2 linked regions of the Homo sapiens genome follow. The protein of the gene in region 1 interacts with the protein of each later gene in a biochemical or structural test. Each region holds a gene or a part of one and is shown in the gene's direction. Other genes may lie near its edges.

Evidence for each region.
Region 2: the proteins of CD40LG (region 1) and PHB1 form a complex in vitro, tested with the Homo sapiens proteins (one study listed by BioGRID).

What each region holds. Positions count from the first base shown.
Region 1 is NC_000023.11:136,647,027-136,650,957, forward strand, and holds the start of CD40LG (CD40 ligand), read left to right. Parts: upstream 1-1,131; 5' UTR 1,132-1,222; coding exon 1,223-1,378; intron 1,379-3,239; coding exon 3,240-3,371; intron 3,372-3,931. UniProt on the Homo sapiens protein: Cytokine that acts as a ligand to CD40/TNFRSF5. Costimulates T-cell proliferation and cytokine production.
Region 2 is NC_000017.11:49,404,883-49,408,382, reverse strand, and holds part of PHB1 (prohibitin 1), read left to right. Parts: intron 1-1,528; coding exon 1,529-1,624; intron 1,625-3,178; coding exon 3,179-3,391; 3' UTR 3,392-3,500.

The sequences.
Region 1 (3,931 bases):
ATGCAAAAGCCCTTCAGAAATGTGTAATCCTACACACTTCAGTGATTCAATTCATTGTCAAAACTTAAGGTGTTTTTAATATTGTTATTGTTCATTTGGTTTTTACCAACATGTAAGGAGTTGGCAATTATTTGTTAAACTCATGTCTTAGGCTAAATAAATTCCAAAAAATTCAGGATGAGAATTGTTTATTGCTTAACGTGTTTCAAATTTCTTCCATGCACATCTTTATTAGATCTTCACAGCAACCTACAGGATAAGCAAGACAGGTGCAAGTGCCTCCTTTGGGTATGAGGAAACTGAGGTCTAAAGAGATGAAGTGATTTGCCCAAGGCTCATAGCAATTTATTGGTAGAGCAAAGACTAGAATTCAGATCTCTTAACTGCAGCCTATTTTCCCTATTCTGAACTGTTACATCAGCATCAACAATTATCTAATGGATTGGAACAGTGTACACAGGCAGCTTAGCTACGTCAAGTCACGATTTTTACTTTAACTTCAATTCCAGAGTCTTGGCCTGATTTCCCTCAAGACCCTACTTATCTTTGCCTTTGCAAAATTTATTTTTCTTGCATTATCTTTCCAGCTAAATTTTATTTAATAACCATCAGCATGCTTTTTTTGCTTTATGCCATGTAGACTTGACCTGAAAACCTGCCAGGCTTTCATTGAGTTTAGTGATTAAAGAAGTAAAGTTCTGAGAAGCAATTAGTTGATGGGACACCAGTCATAAAATCAATCCAAACTTTTGTTGACATGTGTTTCTTTCTCCATATACCAGGTTCCCGCTTCGTATTAGTAAGATTGAAATTGAAATAAGTCTATTGCTGGTGGATGAATTTGTCACTTTCCTTGAAACTGGTGAACCCAAAAAGTTAGACAGTGATAGGAAAATACTGCCATTGTCTGTTAAGAAGTCTATGACATTTCAAGGCAAGAATGAATATATGGAAGAAGAAACTTGTTTCTTCTTTACTTACAAAAAGGAAAGCCTGGAAGTGAATGATATGGGTATAATTAAAAAAAAAAAAAAAAACAAAAAACCTTTACGTAACGTTTTTGCTGGGAGAGAAGACTACGAAGCACATTTTCCAGGAAGTGTGGGCTGCAACGATTGTGCGCTCTTAACTAATCCTGAGTAAGGTGGCCACTTTGACAGTCTTCTCATGCTGCCTCTGCCACCTTCTCTGCCAGAAGATACCATTTCAACTTTAACACAGCATGATCGAAACATACAACCAAACTTCTCCCCGATCTGCGGCCACTGGACTGCCCATCAGCATGAAAATTTTTATGTATTTACTTACTGTTTTTCTTATCACCCAGATGATTGGGTCAGCACTTTTTGCTGTGTATCTTCATAGAAGGTTGGACAAGGTAAGATGAACCACAAGCCTTTATTAACTAAATTTGGGGTCCTTACTAATTCATAGGTTGGTTCTACCCAAATGATGGATGATGGTAGAAACCAAATAGAAGAATGGTCTTGTGGCATAATGTTTGTTGCCTAGTCAATGAAGTCTCATATTCTTGTCTCTGGTTAGGATCTTGGGATCTGGAGTCAGACTGCCTGGGTTCAAATCTTGGCTCTGCCCATACCATCTCTGTTATCCTGGGGCAAGTGCCTCAGTTTCCACATCTGAGAAATGGGGATGGTATTGGTGTCCATTTCATAGATTAAGTGAGTTTAGCCTTGTAAAAAGCTTAGGAGGGGGTCTGATACATAGTAAGCACTATGTACGCACTAGCTATAATTATTTGCTAAAGTTCTGCTTTAAAAGTAAGCTATTTTTTTATGGAGACAGCTTTTTTCTTTTAAATTTCCAGCTAGGCAAGAAGAGCGTCAATTTGATCTAAAATTTCATAATGCTTCAGATTAACATAGACATGGATAAGTCCCAGAATTTGCAGTCTTTTAGTAAAAGTAGCATTTTCTGTGTAATTCTTCACAAGCACTGATTGTAGTTGCAGGATGCTCAGTCTCCCTCTGAGATGTTTTACATTTTTAAATGGTTAGACTTGCAGGAACAAAAGAGCAGAGTAACTTAGTAGGCTGTTTTGCATTCTTAGGAAAAGAAAACCATCAGGACTTATTTTGTTTTCATGTATTTTTTCACTTCCACTGAGGAGTATAATTGGCTGGTGTTGACAAAATACCAATCATAGATGTAAAGGAGAAAGTTGATTAGTTTTCTGGCTGTTCCTAAAATTCTGGATGCAGGAACTGTGGCTAGAAAGCATCTGGATGATTGCACTTTATCAGGGATACTTGAGTGTCCTCTCTTAGGATCTGGACCTAGAATTAATGTCATGAGATTTTTCTAACAGGATAAGGTGAGGTAGTGAGGGCTGAAGTCATCCACTGGGTTATCCAAATATTAGGTTTCACTGCTGACAAAAGAGGGGGCTTCTGGTCTGGTTGGTTATTTGTGTTTGGCCTGATGTGCTCTGTCAATCAAATGTATGGACATAGGCCTAGCTTCTAAAGGGGCAATAGTGACCTCAGTGGACTGATATTTACCGTACTATTTACATGTGCTCTTAATTACAGCAGAAGCTGCCAGCTAACTGAATCTTGTTTTGAATCTAAAAAATCTACTCTTAAAGCAAGAAAATGGTATAAAATTAGTTGATAATGCAAGTGAATTCTGTACATTTAATTATTCTAAGACATTGGAAAATAAAATATCTTGTTACTTTGAGGATAAAAGATGATTTCTTTAAAAATGCAAATGTTTTCTACAAATACTAAAGTTAAAAGGGAGAGAGATGTAATTAGAACTCGTTAACTGACACATTGCAAATTAACTTCTTTTTATAAAGCACTGCATCACAAACACTAAAATGAAGTGGGCAAATTAGCTCTGCAGAAAACTATTTTCTAGGCTGATGTTTATAATGACCAATCATTACTGAAGCAATGAGAAATGTGACAATTACAGAATATTGCTGCTATAGTATGTTGAAAAAATATGCATTTTGTAGTGAACATTTAGTAGAATAGCTCTGATTTCTACCTGGAGTTTCTGATAACATGACATCTTAATTGCTGTCTTTTATAGATTTTTAAACTGCAAATACAAAATAGCAATCAGCCAATATAATAACTTATTATTCTCCATTTATGCCTGAAAGTCCTCCTCTTGTTGATGCCGTGGAAATGAATGTAGAGGCAGATATCATTAGCTGTATTCTCCTTCCGAATGACATTTATCATATCCTTGTTATTCCAAAATAGATAGAAGATGAAAGGAATCTTCATGAAGATTTTGTATTCATGAAAACGATACAGAGATGCAACACAGGAGAAAGATCCTTATCCTTACTGAACTGTGAGGAGATTAAAAGCCAGTTTGAAGGCTTTGTGAAGGTAAGCAGCTTAATTACTGGTAAAAGTGTCATTGAAATATTTTACTACATTTGCTAGATCGGGAAACTGACAATGCCAATGTTTAAAGATTGGTTATAGACACAGACACACAGACACACACACACATATATATGCATGCAGATATACACACATACATGGGTGTGTGTGTGGGGGTTAAAAAAAAAAAACACAAAGACACTCTCTGGGGAAAATACACCCTTAGGGGCACAGTCACACATATTTGTCAGCTTACATATGCAGCTACCACTAGGCAAAATGATGAAGTCCACCAAGCTTGGTTTTTGCATTGCTGTGTCTCCCCATCCAAACCTTGATGCTCTCGCACTGGGGACCCAGAGTCTGATCCCCATTTCCCAGGGAAGCAATAGCCGTCAACAGCTGCCGTGGCAGCAGGCCACAAGTGAAGGGACACCTGAAGACTGGTAACAGTCTCTGGTGCTTCTCTGATGATGGAATTTTAGGTGTCCTGACAGTGAGATCTTTCCCTTTTACTGGGGAGAGAGGTGCAGGGAATAAGTAATAGACATTCTCAGTGTCGC
Region 2 (3,500 bases), on another chromosome or scaffold:
TCTGGGAAAAACCATTTGGAGTGATTTGTTCGGGCAGTGAGGTAAAGTGTTTCCTGTTCAGTTCTCCCGTGCATTGCTAGGGAAAGGCACTGCCTCCCCCGGCATCTGTGCAGCTGTTTAAACAGCCACTTGACAACACCCAGTGCTAACCCCTGGGCACTGCTCCACCTTGCTCCGCCTGCTGGAAGTCCTGGGGGCTTGGGGCTCCCTCTGCTGGCAAGAGGCCAGGCTGCAGCCATTCTGTGGGCCCTTCCCTCGTAATTACCGTTAACCTGAACACCTTGGCTGTGAGAAAACGCTGAGTAAAAACCTAAGGGAAAAGTTGGCATTTTACTAGACTTTAACCACATACTCCATTCTGGGGAAATGTGGGCTGACCACAAGAAACCCTATCTAAGGTGTGAGAAGAAAATTAGGTTTCATGGGGAATTTGCTGCCCTCAGCTGGCCCTTGTAGAAATAAATTTTATTCCTTAATTATACATTTCATTTTTCATGTCTCAGGATCAGATTTTCTTACCCAAACTTTGACTAAGAAACTAGAAATGGATCAGGCGAAGTACAACAGCTGCAGTTAGAGTTAGGAGGTTAAAAATTCTGGAAGAGAATGAGACCAGGATTTACTCTTCAGGAGAAGTTTGGAGCTGCTTTTTTAAAAAGCAGAGGTTGGGAGAGTGGAGGAAATGAAACAACTAGAATTTGATGGCAAAACCAATGCTCTTCTCTTGATTCTTTTTCAATAAAAATTAGGATGAATAAGTAAATTGCTCTAGGCTGGGCATTAGGAATTCTGAGGTCCCTTCCCATTGTTTGTGCTATCTTTAGGGACAGTCCCGTCAGACCTGACATGATTAGGGAAGGTCTATGGATCATCAGACTTCTAAACCCTCATGCCGACCAATGACTTTACCTGCTTTCTCTTTCTTTTAAACCGTTTAACAGAACCATTCACATTGGGAATACCATGATTTGCGTTCCACCGTCCCTCGTCCTCTTCCTGTTCAGTGGTGGAGCTGCTGTGGGAAGACGCGGACTGGTTAATCCATAAACAGAGAGCATCAGGCTCTTGGATCCCTGGGAACCAGCTGCCTCCCTCACTCTCAGGGACCCTGTTTTCCATCTGGCCTTCCTTGGGCTTTGAACAAGGCATCAAAGGCCCTTGGAAGAGCACTAGTCAGTGGCGGGGGTCTTAGAACCCACAGTTCTCCTCCTCTGGGGAGGTGGTCGATTGAGTAGATACCTTCTGGTGCCTGTGGGCCCCATCAAAAGCCCCCGGTGCCATTTGCTACATGAGGTCACTGTACTGAGAGTGACAGAGTAATATACAGGAGCAGTTTGGGCAGCCAGAGAGTCTGGGTGTAAACTCAGTTTGGATACAGATACGGAGGTGGAAGAGTGTTCTGGCCTCACGGATGCCTCCAGCTGCTAGAGCCATTGCTGGCCTCTTCTTCCAGCGGCCATGGAGCCCTCCCAGCAGTGCTGTCGAAGCAATCACACTGCCTCATCTTGTGCTCACTCTCTCCCCTTAGACACATCTGACCTTCGGGAAGGAGTTCACAGAAGCGGTGGAAGCCAAACAGGTGGCTCAGCAGGAAGCAGAGAGGGCCAGATTTGTGGTGGAAAAGGTGAGCCTTCGACCAGATGGCAGGAGCCTCTCTCTCCCCTTTCTCCGGCACTCAGCTTCCCCATTTGCTGGGTGGCCTGGAAATTCATCATCTGTCATCCCTTCTTCCGGGATAATCAGAAGGGGCTTGAAGGAATTGTACTTCTGCAATTGGTTCCAGAGTCTTCAGGGGCTAGTCAAGGATATGTGGAGTTATGTTCCTAAATCACTGAAGGGTAATTTTTCTTCCACTTCTCTGAGATCAAAAACACTCTCTTACAAATAAAAATGTTTCTCCTGGAGTATTTTCAGCTTCACTGAGAAGTCATTTTTAACCATAGTTACATAGTGAAAGCTGACAGCAAAAAAGATCAAACGTTGCACCAGATGTGCTTTCGTCACTAGATTTTTTTCTAGTGCTAAATCCATCCAGATGTGTCAAAGAATGTGATGGGACACAGTGTATTTGCGTAGCAGCCTGGTCTTTCTGGTATTTGCAAAGACATGTTCATTTATTGTTGTCCCCTTCTTCCCACCACCAGTATCCCTAATTGGTGGGGAGATGGGGACAGCAAGAAATAAAATGGGAAAAGAGGGATAGATTTAATTTTGGAGAATGAAAACACTGTGTGGGCAGAGACTTGTGTTGCTTTGTATCTGCCATAACTTCAGAGATTATAATAAGTCTAGTACAGTGCCTGGTGATAGTAGGTATACAGTAAATGTTTGTTGAGCAAATAGACGCAGGGCCCAGTCATTTCAAAATTGTATGTAATTTCAGGGAGGCTTAATACTGTCTTCTTCCTCACACTCCTGAAGGTCACACGTTGCAGAGAGCTGTCTTCCTATTGATATTGGTAGGGCAAGCCTAGGAGATCTCACTCTGGGTGCCTGGATTCTGGTCAGGAACCAGCCTAACTCACAGGCAGCTCTAGGAACAGTCAAAAGTGCATGCTGCTCTTCCTTAGCCATCCCGAGGTTTTTTGTTTGTTTGTTTGTTTGTTTGTTTGTTTGTGACAGCTCTGTGGCCCAGGCTGGAGTGCAATGGCATGATCATAGCTCACTGCAGCCTTGGCCTCCTGGGCTCAAGTGATCCTCCTGCCTCCGCCTCCCAAAGTGCCAGGATTACAGGCATGAGCCACCACACCCGGCCCTGTCCTGGCTTTGATGAAGTCCTTTAGACTTAAGGCTGGAGGAAAAGATGAGCCTTGAGGATTGATTCCACCTTTCTTTTGCTTCTGTTTTCCTTGGCCTTGGCTTCTCCTGGCTCAGAGTAGGGTTGTTAAACTAGATTGCAATTAATATTAATGAGGACTTTGAAATAAGACAAATATTCCTGCAGCCAACAGAGATGTATCCCTCCCGTGACAAGGAGTGAGCATGAAAGGATAGGGGAGGACTGGTGGGCAATGTGCTCTGCTTCCCCCCGCTTCCCCCGCTAGCCATCAGGAGGAAGTAAACTCCCCGAGTTCCTTCAGGAGCCTGGGAAGGTGGCTTTCTGGTGAAGGGCCTTTGGTTGTAGCCTGACATGCGGTGCCCTGAGGTTTGATCTTTGTCTCCACCTCCATTCTTTTAGGCTGAGCAACAGAAAAAGGCGGCCATCATCTCTGCTGAGGGCGACTCCAAGGCAGCTGAGCTGATTGCCAACTCACTGGCCACTGCAGGGGATGGCCTGATCGAGCTGCGCAAGCTGGAAGCTGCAGAGGACATCGCGTACCAGCTCTCACGCTCTCGGAACATCACCTACCTGCCAGCGGGGCAGTCCGTGCTCCTCCAGCTGCCCCAGTGAGGGCCCACCCTGCCTGCACCTCCGCGGGCTGACTGGGCCACAGCCCCGATGATTCTTAACACAGCCTTCCTTCTGCTCCCACCCCAGAAATCACTGTGAAATTTCATGA